3 linked regions of the Homo sapiens genome follow. The protein of the gene in region 1 interacts with the protein of each later gene in a pairwise test. Each region holds a gene or a part of one and is shown in the gene's direction. Other genes may lie near its edges. The genes, in order: DAGLB, NBPF19 and PISD.

Evidence for each region.
Region 2: the proteins of DAGLB (region 1) and NBPF19 interact in a two-hybrid assay, tested with the Homo sapiens proteins (one large-scale study listed by BioGRID).
Region 3: the proteins of DAGLB (region 1) and PISD interact in a two-hybrid assay, tested with the Homo sapiens proteins (one large-scale study listed by BioGRID and IntAct).

What each region holds. Positions count from the first base shown.
Region 1 is NC_000007.14:6,427,335-6,430,987, reverse strand, and holds part of DAGLB (diacylglycerol lipase-beta), read left to right. Parts: intron 1-380; coding exon 381-508; intron 509-3,653.
Region 2 is NC_000001.11:149,481,453-149,485,105, forward strand, and holds part of NBPF19 (NBPF family member NBPF19), read left to right. Parts: intron 1-722; coding exon 723-774; intron 775-3,653.
Region 3 is NC_000022.11:31,655,570-31,659,222, reverse strand, and holds part of PISD (phosphatidylserine decarboxylase proenzyme, mitochondrial), read left to right. Parts: intron 1-3,653. UniProt on the Homo sapiens protein: Catalyzes the formation of phosphatidylethanolamine (PtdEtn) from phosphatidylserine (PtdSer). Plays a central role in phospholipid metabolism and in the interorganelle trafficking of phosphatidylserine.

The sequences.
Region 1 (3,653 bases):
CCTGGCCAACATGGTGAAACCCCGTCTCTACTAAAAATACAAAAATTAGCCGGGTGTGGTGGCGGGTGCCTGTAGTCTCAACGACTTGAGAGGCTGAGGCAGGGGAATTGCTTGAACCTGGGAGGCGGAGGTAGCAGTGAGCTGACATTGTGCCACTGCACTCCAGCCTGGTGACAGAGCGAGACTCTAAAAAAAAAAAAAAATGAGGAGTCCATGTCATCCTTATTGAAGGAGCAGTTTTGCCTGTGGGCGTCTGAGAGTTCTATTCAACGAAGGAGCAGGAAGAGTCAGGAATGAGTTCAGGTTTCAGGTCTCAGTGTGTTGATCCTCTGTGTCAGGAGTTCCCTTAATAAACAGTAGTTTTTGTCCTTCTCTTGTAGGAAGCTGATCTGGATGCAGAATTAGAAAACTGCCATCATTACATGCAGTTTGCAGCAGCGGCCTATGGGTGGCCCCTCTACATCTACAGAAACCCCCTCACGGGGCTGTGCAGGATTGGTGGTGACTGGTGGGTTGGCACAGTCTGAGCCTCCATAGCCATATTTCCCTTAAAAAAAAAAGCTATTTTGAGATATTTCAAAAATTTGAAAGAACAGTGCAAAGAACTCCCATGAATCCTTTACCTAGAGTCACCAGCTGTGACTCATCTGGTCACATGCGCTGTATCTCTCTCTCTCTCTCTCTCCCTCCCTCCCTCCCCCCTGCATATATATATATATATATATATATATATATATGCACATGTATTTTTTTTCCCCGAACCATTTTATTTTTCTCTTTTTGAGACAGAGTTTCACCCTTGCTGCCCAGGCTGGAGTGCAGTGGCGTGATCTCAGCTCACCACAACCTCCGTCTCCCAGGCTCAAGCGGTGCTACTGGCTCAGCCTCCTGAGTAGTTGGAATTACAGGTGCCCGCCACCATGCCCGGCTAATTTTCATTTTTTGAGATGGAGTTTCACTCTGTTGCCCAGGCTGGAGTGCAGTGGCACAATCTCGGCTCACTGCAAGCTCCGCCTCCCTGGTTCACGCCATTCTCCTGCCTCAGCCTCCCGAGTAACTGGGACTACAGGCGCCCGCCACCACTGCTGGCTAATTTTTTGTATTTTTAGTAGAGATGGGGTTTCACCGTGTTAGCCAGGATGGTCTCGATCTCCTGACCTCGTGATCCGTCTGCCTCGGCCTCCCAAAGTGCTGGGATTACAAACATGAGCCACCACGCCCGGCCACACCCGGCTAATTTTCTATTTTTAGTAGAGACGGGGTTTCACTATGTTGGCCAGGCTGGTCTGGAACTCCTGACCTTGTGGTTCACCTGCCTCACCCTCCCAAAGTACTGAGATTACAGGCGTCAGCCACCAGGCCCGGTCTCAGGTAATTTTTGTATGTTTAGTAGAGACAGGATTTCCCCATGTTGACCGGGCTGGTCTCAAACTCCTGACCTCAAGTGATCTGCCTGCCTCAGCCTCCCAGAGTTCTGGGATTACAAGGTGTGAGCCACTGTGCCCAGCCCCAGTAATACCCTTTTTAGCAATTTTTTTCTCCAATCCAGGATGATGCGTTACATCTAGTTGCTGTGTCTCTTTGGTCTCCTTCAAGTTTTAAGTTTCTCAGCCGTTCTTTCCTTTCATGATATTGACATTTTGAAGAGGACAGTGCAGATATTTTGTAGAAGGGCCTTCAATTTGCATTTGTGTGATGGTTTCCCCATGATTAGATTTATGTTTTGCATTTTTGGCGGGAATGGTCCATGACAACCATCCTTCCTAGTGTATCATATCAGGGGATACATGATGCCAGTTTGTCCCATTTCTGGTTATATTAACATTGATTGCTTGGCTGAGGTGGTGACTGCCAGCCTTGAGACCATTTAAATATCTTGTCCCAGGCCGGGCGTGGTGGCTCAGACCTGTAATCCCAGCATTTTGGGAGGTCGAGGCCAGCGGATCACTTGAGCTCAGGAGTTTGAGACCAGCCTGGGCAACCTGGCAAAACTCCATCTCACTAAAAATATAAAAATTAGCTGGGTGTAACAGTGTGTACCTGTAGTCCCAGGTGCTTGGGAGGCTGAGGCAGGAGAAACACTTGAGCCCAGGAGGCTGAGGTTGCAGTGAGCTGGGGTTGCACCACTGTACTCCAGCCTGAGTGACAGAGCAAGACGCTGTCTTAAAAAATAAATTAAATAAATATATATGTCTATATCCCACCAGGTGCAGTGGCTCATGCCTATAATCCCAGCACTTTGGGAGGCCAAGGCGGGCTGATCACCTGAGGTCAGGAGTTCAAGACCATCCTGACCAACACGGTGACACCCCGTCTCTACTAAAAATACAGAAATTAGCTGGACATGGTTGCACACACCTGTAATCACAGCTACTCGGGAGGTTGAGGCAGGAGAATCGCTTGAACCAGGGAGTTGGAGGTTGCAGTGAGTGGAGATCACACCATTGCCCTGCAGCCTAAGCAACAGAGCAAGATTCTGTCTCAAAAAGAAAAAAAAAAAAGAAACCAAAACAAAACAAAAAACAAGTAAGTAAATGTCCTATCCCTCTCTGAATTCTCATCTGGCAGTACAGCATCCATTGATTCTTGTCTGAATCACTTATTACCAGGATGGTGGCAAAATCATGATTTTTCTTTTTCTTTCTTTCTTTCTTTTTTTTTTTTTTTTTTTTGAGACAGAGTCTCAGGATCCTGGCTCACTGCAACCTCCATCTCCCAGGTTCAAGTGATTCTCCTGCCTCAGCCTCCCGAGTAGCTGGGATTACAGGCCTGCACCACCATACTCGGCTAGTTTTTTGTAATTTTAATAGAGACAGGTTTTCGCTGTGTTGGCCAGGCTGGTCGAACTCCTGACCTCAGGTGATCCACTCGCCTTGGCCTCCCAAAGTGGTTGGATTACAGGCATGAGCCACCGCACCTGGCCAAAATTGTGATTTTTCTAAATTCATCATTTCTTCTACATTAATTGTCATTCTCCTATAAAAAAGAGCTTTTTATCCCTACATCTTACTGTCAATATGGATTTATAGATTCTTAAATTATTCAGTGGGTTGTAATTATGACTGTTTATTTTGTATTAAGTACAGTGTTTATTTGATGCTCAAAATGTTCCAGATTTTGTCCTGCAGACTGGCTCCAGTGTTCTTTTCATATGACCCCATCATGTTCTGAGCACTTCCTAACCTCTGGATTTTGCTTTTTCTTTTTTTGGGACTGTTGCCCAGGCTAGAGTATAGTGGTATCATCACGGCTTACTGTAACACCATACCCTCAACCTCCTGGGCTCAAGTGATTCACCTGCCTCGGTCTCCCAAAGTCCTGGGATTACAGGTGTAAGCCACCACGCCTATGTATTTATTTTAAAGATCATGAGATTTTACTAATATCTTTTTTTTGTTTGTCTTTTAAGAGACGGGGTTCTCTCACCTCAGCCTCCCAAGTAGCTGGGACTACAGGCATGCACTGCCAGACCCAGATAATTTTTAAAAATGTTTTAAATTAATAAATTTCTTTTTAGAGACAGTTTTGCTTTGTGGCCCAGGCTGGTCTCCAACACTTGAGCGATCCTCCCGCCTCAGCCTCCCAAAGTGCTGGCATCATGGGTGTCAGTCTCCTGGCCCTGATATCTTTTAATTCTAGTCCAAAGCCACAGA
Region 2 (3,653 bases), on another chromosome or scaffold:
GTTTCTTTGTAGCATCGTGGATTTTTTTTTTTTTTTTTTTTTTTTTGCAATGGAGTCTTGCTCTGTCACCCAGGCTGGAGTGCAGTGGCACCATCTTGGCTTGGTGCAACCTCTGCCTCCCAGATTCAAGTGATTCTCCTGCCTCAGCCTCCTGAGTTGCTGGGACCACAGGTGCACAACATCACATCTGGCTAATTTTTGTATTTTTAGTAGAGACAGGGTTTCCCCATATTGGCCAGGGTAGTCCTGAACTCATGACCTCAAATGATTCACCTGTCTTGGCCTCCCAAATCACAGATTCTTTTTAAAGCAAGAGTTGTTAAAATTTATCTATCAGTCGTGTTTCATGTATAGATGCCTCTAAACATTTAATGTCCATGTTACCTGGTGATATAAGTCCGTATCGCAGCAACACTCTTAGAAAATTGTTTGACCAATTTTTGGAGATTTTTTTGGGGAAAAAATTTTGTTTAACTTTGACTCAGGCAGGGAATATGGCATTATGGTCTACACGTAGAGGGAGATTTTGGCCTGTGGGTCTGGAAAGCAGGGTCATCTAATTCTCACCAAAGTTAATCTAGGACACCCTAGAATATTCCTGTCAGAATCCTTATTCTTGCACTGAGAATAGTTATGTCCTTGTGCTATGACTGGACAGTGATTTGTTCATATGTGAAGTATGAATTGCTTAATGTGACCTGCTTCTCTGAATTTATTTACAGAAAATGAAAGTGATGATGAGGAAGAGGAAGAAAAAGGGCCAGTGTCTCCCAGGTAATGTTGTGGAATTGTTGGCTGTTAATTCAGTAGTGACATCTGGAGATTGTAGATTTAGGGAAAATGAGGAAGTGATGAATAGAACTATTTCTTCCATTCACCCAGCTACAAATTGTGCTGATTTACAATGTTGTATGTTATTTGTGGCACTTGTATTGGTTTTAATTTCATAGTCCTCTCAAGATAGGAACTTGCCATCAGATGAGCCAGGTGAACTAGCCAAACAGGGTTTTCTTGTTGATCTTTTCAAAAAACCAGCCCTGGATTCATTGATTTTTTGAAGGGTTTTTTGTGTCTCTATCTCCTTGAGTTCTGCTCTGATCTTAGTTACTTCTTGTCTTCTGCTAGCTTTTGAATTTGTTTGCTTTGCTTCTCTAGTTATTTTAATTGTGATGTTAGGGTGTCCATTTTAGATCTTTTCTGCTTTCTCTTGTGGGCATTTAGTGCTATAATTTTCCCTCTACACATTGCTTTAAATGTGTCCCAGAGATTCTGGTATGTTGTGTCTTTGTTCTCATTGGTTTCAAAGAACATCTTTATTTCTGCCTTCATTTTGTTATTTTCCCAGTAGTCATTCAGGAGCAGGTTGTTCAGTTTCCATGTAGTTGTGTGGTTTTGAGTGAGTTTCTTAATCCTGAGTTCTAATTTGATTGCACTGTGGTCTGACAGTTTGTTGTGATTTCCATTCTTTTACATTTGCTGACGAGTGCTTTACCTCCAACTATGTGGTCAATTTTGGAATAAGTGTGATGTGGTGCTGAGAAGAATGTATATTCTGTTGATTTGGGGTGGAGAGTTCTGTAGATGTCTTTTAGGTCGGCTTGGTGGAGAGCTGAGTTCAAGTCCTGGATATCCTTGTTAAGCTTCTGTCTCATTGATCTGTCTAATATTGACAGTGGGGTGTTAAAGTCTCCCATGATGATTGTGTGGAGTCTAAATCTCTTTGTAGGTCTCTCAGGACTTGCTTTATGAATCTGGGTGCTCCTGTATAGGGTGCATATATATTTAGGATAGTTAACTCTTCTTGTTGAATTGATCCCTTTACCATTATGTAGTGGCCTTCTTTGTCTCTTTTGATCTTTGTTGGTTTAAAGTCTGTTTTATCAGAGACTAGGATTGCAACACCTGCCTTTTTTTGTTTTCCATTTGCTTGGTAGATCTTCCTCCATCCCTTTATTTTGAGCCTATGTGTGTCTCTGCATGTGAGATGGGTTTCCTGAGTACAGCACACTGATGGGTCTTGACTCTTTATCCAATTTGCCATTCTGTGTTTTTTAACTGGGGCATTTAGCCCATTTACATTTAAGGTTAATATTGTTATGTGTGAATTTGATCCTGTCGTTATGATGTTAGCTGGTTATTTCTTCCGTTAGTTGATGCAGTTTCTTCCTAGCGTCAATGGTCTTTACAGTTTGGCATGTTTTTGCAGTGGCTGGTACCGGTTGTTCCTTTCCATGTTTAGTGCTTCCTTTAGGAGCTCTTGTAAGGCAGGCCTGGTGGTGACAAAATCTCTCAGCATTTGCTTCTCTGTAAAGGATTTATTTCTCCTTCACTTATGAAGCTTTGTTTGGCTGGATATGAAATTCTTGGTTGAAAATTCTTTTCTTTAAGAATGTTGAAGGTGCTGGAGAGGATGTGGAGAAATAGGAACACTTTTACACTGTTGGTGGGACTGTAAACTAGTTCAACGATTGTGGAAGGCAGTGTGGCAATTCCTCAGGGATCTAGAACTAGAAATACCATTTGACCCAGCCATCCCATTACTGGGTGTATACCCAAAGGATTATAAATCATGCTGCTGTAAAGACACATGCACACATATGTTTATTGCGGCACTATTCACAATAGCAAAGACTTGGAACCAAGCCAAATATCCAGCAATGATAGACTGGATTAAGAAAATGTGGCACATATACACCATGGAATACTATGCAGCTATAAAAAATGATGAGTTCATGTCCTTTGTAGGGGCATGGATGAAGCTGGAAACCATCATTCTCAGCAAACTATTGCAAGGACAAAAAACCAAATACCGCATGTTCTTACTCACAGGTGGGAATTGAACAATGAGAACACATGGACACAGAAAGGGGAACATCACACACTGGGGCCTGTTGTAGGGTGGGGGGAGGGAGGAGGGGTAGCATTAGGAGATATACCTAATGCTAAATGATGAGTTAATGGGTGAAGCACGCCAATGTGGACATGTATACATATGTAACTAACCTGCACGTTGTGCACATGTACCCTAAGACTTAAAGTATTAAAAAAAATATATATATATATACATACACACAAAAAATAATAAAGGAAAACTATACATATGGAAAAAAAAAAGAATGTTGAATATTGCTCCCACTCTCTTCTGGCTTGTAGGGTTTGTGCCAAGAGATCTGCTGCTAGTCTGATGGGTTTCCCTTTGTGGGTAATCCAACCTTTCTCTCTGGCTGCCCTTAGCATTTTTTCCTTCATTTCAACCTTGGTGAATCTGACAATTACGTGTTTTGGGGTTGCTCTTCTCGAGGAGTATCTTTATGGTGTTCTCTGTGTTTCCTGAATTTGAATGTTGGCCTTCCTTGCTAGGTTGGGGAAGTCCTCCTGGATAATATCCTGAAGAATGTTTCCCAGCTTGGTTCCATTCTCCCCGTCACTTTCAGTACACCAATCAAACGTAGATTTGGTCTTTCCACATAGTCCCATATTTATTGGAGGCTTGTTCATTTCTTTTTACTCTTTTTTCTCTAAACTTCTCTTCTCGCTTCATTTCACTAATTTGATCTTGAATCACTGATACCGTTTCTTGCACTTGATCGAATTGGCTACTGAAGCTTGTGCATGCATCACGTAGTTCTCGTGCCATGGTTTTCAGCTCCATC
Region 3 (3,653 bases), on another chromosome or scaffold:
GAAAGCAAGGGAGACATAAGGACTATAGGCAAAATGTTACTACTAGGGGTGATGTTAAAAATGTCTTAGGCCTGGGCGTGGTGTCTCATGCCTGTAATCCCAGCATTTTGGGAGGCTAAGGCGGGTGGATTGCATGAGCTCAGGAGTTCAAGACCAGCCTGGGCAACATGGCAAAAACCCATCTGTACAAAAAACACAAAAATTAGCTGGTCATAGTGGTGCATACATGTAGTCCCAGCCACCTGGGAGGCTGAGGTAGGAGGATTGCCTGAGCCCAGGAGGTTGAGGCTGCAGTGAGCCAAGATCATGCCACTGCACTCCAGCCTGGGCAACAGAGTGAGACCCTGTCTCAAAAAAAAAAAAAAAAGAAAAAGAAAAAATAGTGCAACTGGCCAGGTGTGGTGGCTTATGTCTGTAATCTCAACACTTTGGGAGGCTGAGGCAGGAGAATTGCTTGAGCCCAAGAGTTCGAGACCAACCTGAGCAACATAGTGAGACCTCCTCTCCGCAAAAAATGGCTGGGTGCACATCTGTGGTCCCAGCTACTTGGGAAGCTAAGGTGGGAGGTTCACTTGTGCCCAGGAGGTCGAGGCTGCAGTGAGCTGTGATTTCACCACTGCATTCCAGCCTGGGTGACAGAGTGAGACCCTGTCTCAAAAAACAAACAAACAAACAAACAAACTTATAACCAGGATGCCATGGAGACAGACTAGTGAGAGTGAATGCTGGTCATAGATGATTGATATGACCATCTCAGTGTATGTCAGCTGAATATCAACTCTTAATAATAACAGTCTAACTAGGTGCCAGGCCCTGAGCTAAGGTTTTGCATGATTGTCTTCTAATGAGGTGAGTTTTGTTTTTGCAGGTGGAGAAACTGAGGCTTAAGATTAGTTAAGAAATTTCCTAAGGTCACACAGCTGCTAAGAAGTGGCAGCGCTGAGATTTGAGTTGCACAGGCAGACTGGAGTGCTCAATTGTGGGCTTTAATTGCCTACTTGAAGGATGCGATGTAGAATGCATGTAGAAGAGACATCTGTTTGAACCCATCCATTCATCTTTCTGGGGCATACTGTCACTATTGAGATTGAAGGCCAGTGAGAACACAGATAAACCCCGTGTTCATCGAGGTATACATACAGTAAACAAATAACTGAATACATGCAGAATCCATTCATTTTGTGTAATAAGAAATGCCATGAAGAAAAAGAAAGCAAGATAATTAAGAAGTTAGTGCTCAACAGAAAGACAAACTTTGCATGTTCTCACTTATTTGTGGGAGCTGTAAATTAAAACGGTTGAACTCATGGAGATAGTAGAAGGATGGTTACCAGAAGCTGGAAAGGGTAGTGGGGGGATGGGAAGAAATGGGGATGGTTAATGGGTATCAAAAAAATAAAATGGGCTGGGTGCAGTGGCTCACGCCTGTAATCCCAGCACTTTGGAGGCCCAGGCGGGTGGATCACCTGAGGTCAGGAGTTCAACACCAGCGTGGCCAACAAACCCTGTCACTACTAAAACTACAAAAAAAAATTAGCCGGGTGTGGTGGTGTGCTCCTGTAATCCCAGCTACTCAGGAGGCTGAGGTAGGAGAATTCCTTGAACCTGGGAGTCAGAGGTTGCAGTGAGCTGAGATTGCGCCATTGCACTCCAGCCTGGGCAACAGAGCAAGATGCCATCTCAAAAAAATATATAAAATAAAATGAATAAGACCTAGTGTTTGCTAGCACAACAGGGTGACTATTGTCAAAAATAATTTAAAATTATTACATTTAAAAATAACTAAAAGGCTGGGTGCGGTGGCTCACGCCTGTAATCCCAGCACTTTGGGAGGCTGAGGCGGGTGGATCACGAGGTCAGGAGTTCAAGATCAGTCTGGCCAAGAAGGTGAAACCCCATCTCTACTAAAAATACAAAAAATTAGCCAGGCATGGTGGTGGGTGCCTGTAATCCCAGCTACTCGGGAGGCTGAGGCAGAGAATTGCTTGAACCCAGGAGGCGGAGGTTGCGGTGAGCTGAGATCATGCCACTGCACTCCAGCCTGGGCGACAGAGCAAAACTCCATCTCAAAAAAACAAAACAAAACACTAAAAGAGTATAACTGGATTGTTTGTAACACAAAGCTTAAATGCTTGAGGGGATAGATATCCCATTTACCTAATGTGATTATTCCATATTGCGTGCCTGTATCAAACTAGCTCATGTAACACATAGATATATATGCCTACTACATACCCAGAAAAATTTTTTTTAAAAATTAAGAAGTTAGTGTTCAAGAGGGCCAACTCTTGGGCATACAGTGCTCAGGAAAAACTGCACTGAGGAGGTAACATTTGAGCAGAGAACTAAATGATGTGGGAGTGAGCCACATAGGAGAGGGGTGTGCCCAGCATAGCAAACAGCAAATGGAGGAGTGTGGAAAGGGGCACATGTGGTGTGGACAAGGAGCGGCAAGAGGAGTGAGTGAGGAGGAAGAGAGGGAAAGTAGCTAGAGATCTGAGAGGCTGACAAGATGTGGGATCTTGTCTTTCTGTTTTGTTTATTTATTTATTTATTTATTTATTTATTTATTTTTGAGACGCAGTCTTGCTCTGTCACCCAGGCTGGAGTGCAGTGTGCGATCTCGGCTCCCTGCAACCTCCGTCTCCCAGATTCAAGCAATTCTTCTGCCTCAGCGTCCTGAGTAGCTGGGACTATAGGCACCGACCACCACACCTGGCTAATTTTTGTATTTTTAGTAGAGATGGAGTTTCACCATGTTGGTCAGGCCGGTCTCGAACTCCTGACCTCGTGATCTGCCCACCTTGGCCTTCCAACGTGCTGGGAGTTCTCATAGGCGTCAGCCACCATGCCCGGCCTTTATTTTTTTGTTTTTTTCAGACAGAGTCTCGCTCTGTCATGCCCAGGCTGGAGTGCAGTGGTGTGATCTTGGCTCATTGCAACCTCCACCTCCTGGGTTCAAGCAATTCTCCTGCCTCAGTCTCCCAAGTAGCTGGGATTATAGGCCACCACCATCACACCCGTCTAATTTTTTGTATTTTTAGTAGAGACGGGGTTTCACCATATTGGCTGGCTAGTTTTTTGTATTTTTAGTGGAGACGGGGTTTTACCATATTGGCGAGGCTGGTCTCAAACTCCCGACCTCAGGTGATCCACCTGCCTCAGCCTCTCAAAGTGCTGAGATTACAGGCGTGAGCCACTGAGCCTGGCCAGTGGTAGTTTTCATTGCCTTGCCAGTGGATTGAATGTGGATGATGAGAAAGAAAGGACTTAAAAATGAGTCCTGGGCTGGGTGCAGTGGCTCATGCCTGTAATCCCAACACTTTCGGAGGCCAAGGTGGGTGGATCACTTGAGGTCAGGAGTTCGAGCCCAGCCTGGCCAACATGGCGAAACCCTGTCTCTACTAAAAAAACACAAAAATTAGCTGGGTGTGGTGGCTTGTGCCTGTAATCCCAGCTACTTGGGAGGCTGAGGCAGAAGAACTGCTTGAACCCAGGAGGCGGAGGTTGCAGTGAGTTGAGATCACGCCACTGAACTCCAGCCTGGGTGACGGAGCGAGACTGCATCTCAAAAACAAAACAAAACAAAACAAAAACGAGTCCTGGCCTGGTGCAGTGGCTCATGCCTGTAATCCCAGAACTTTGGGAGGCTG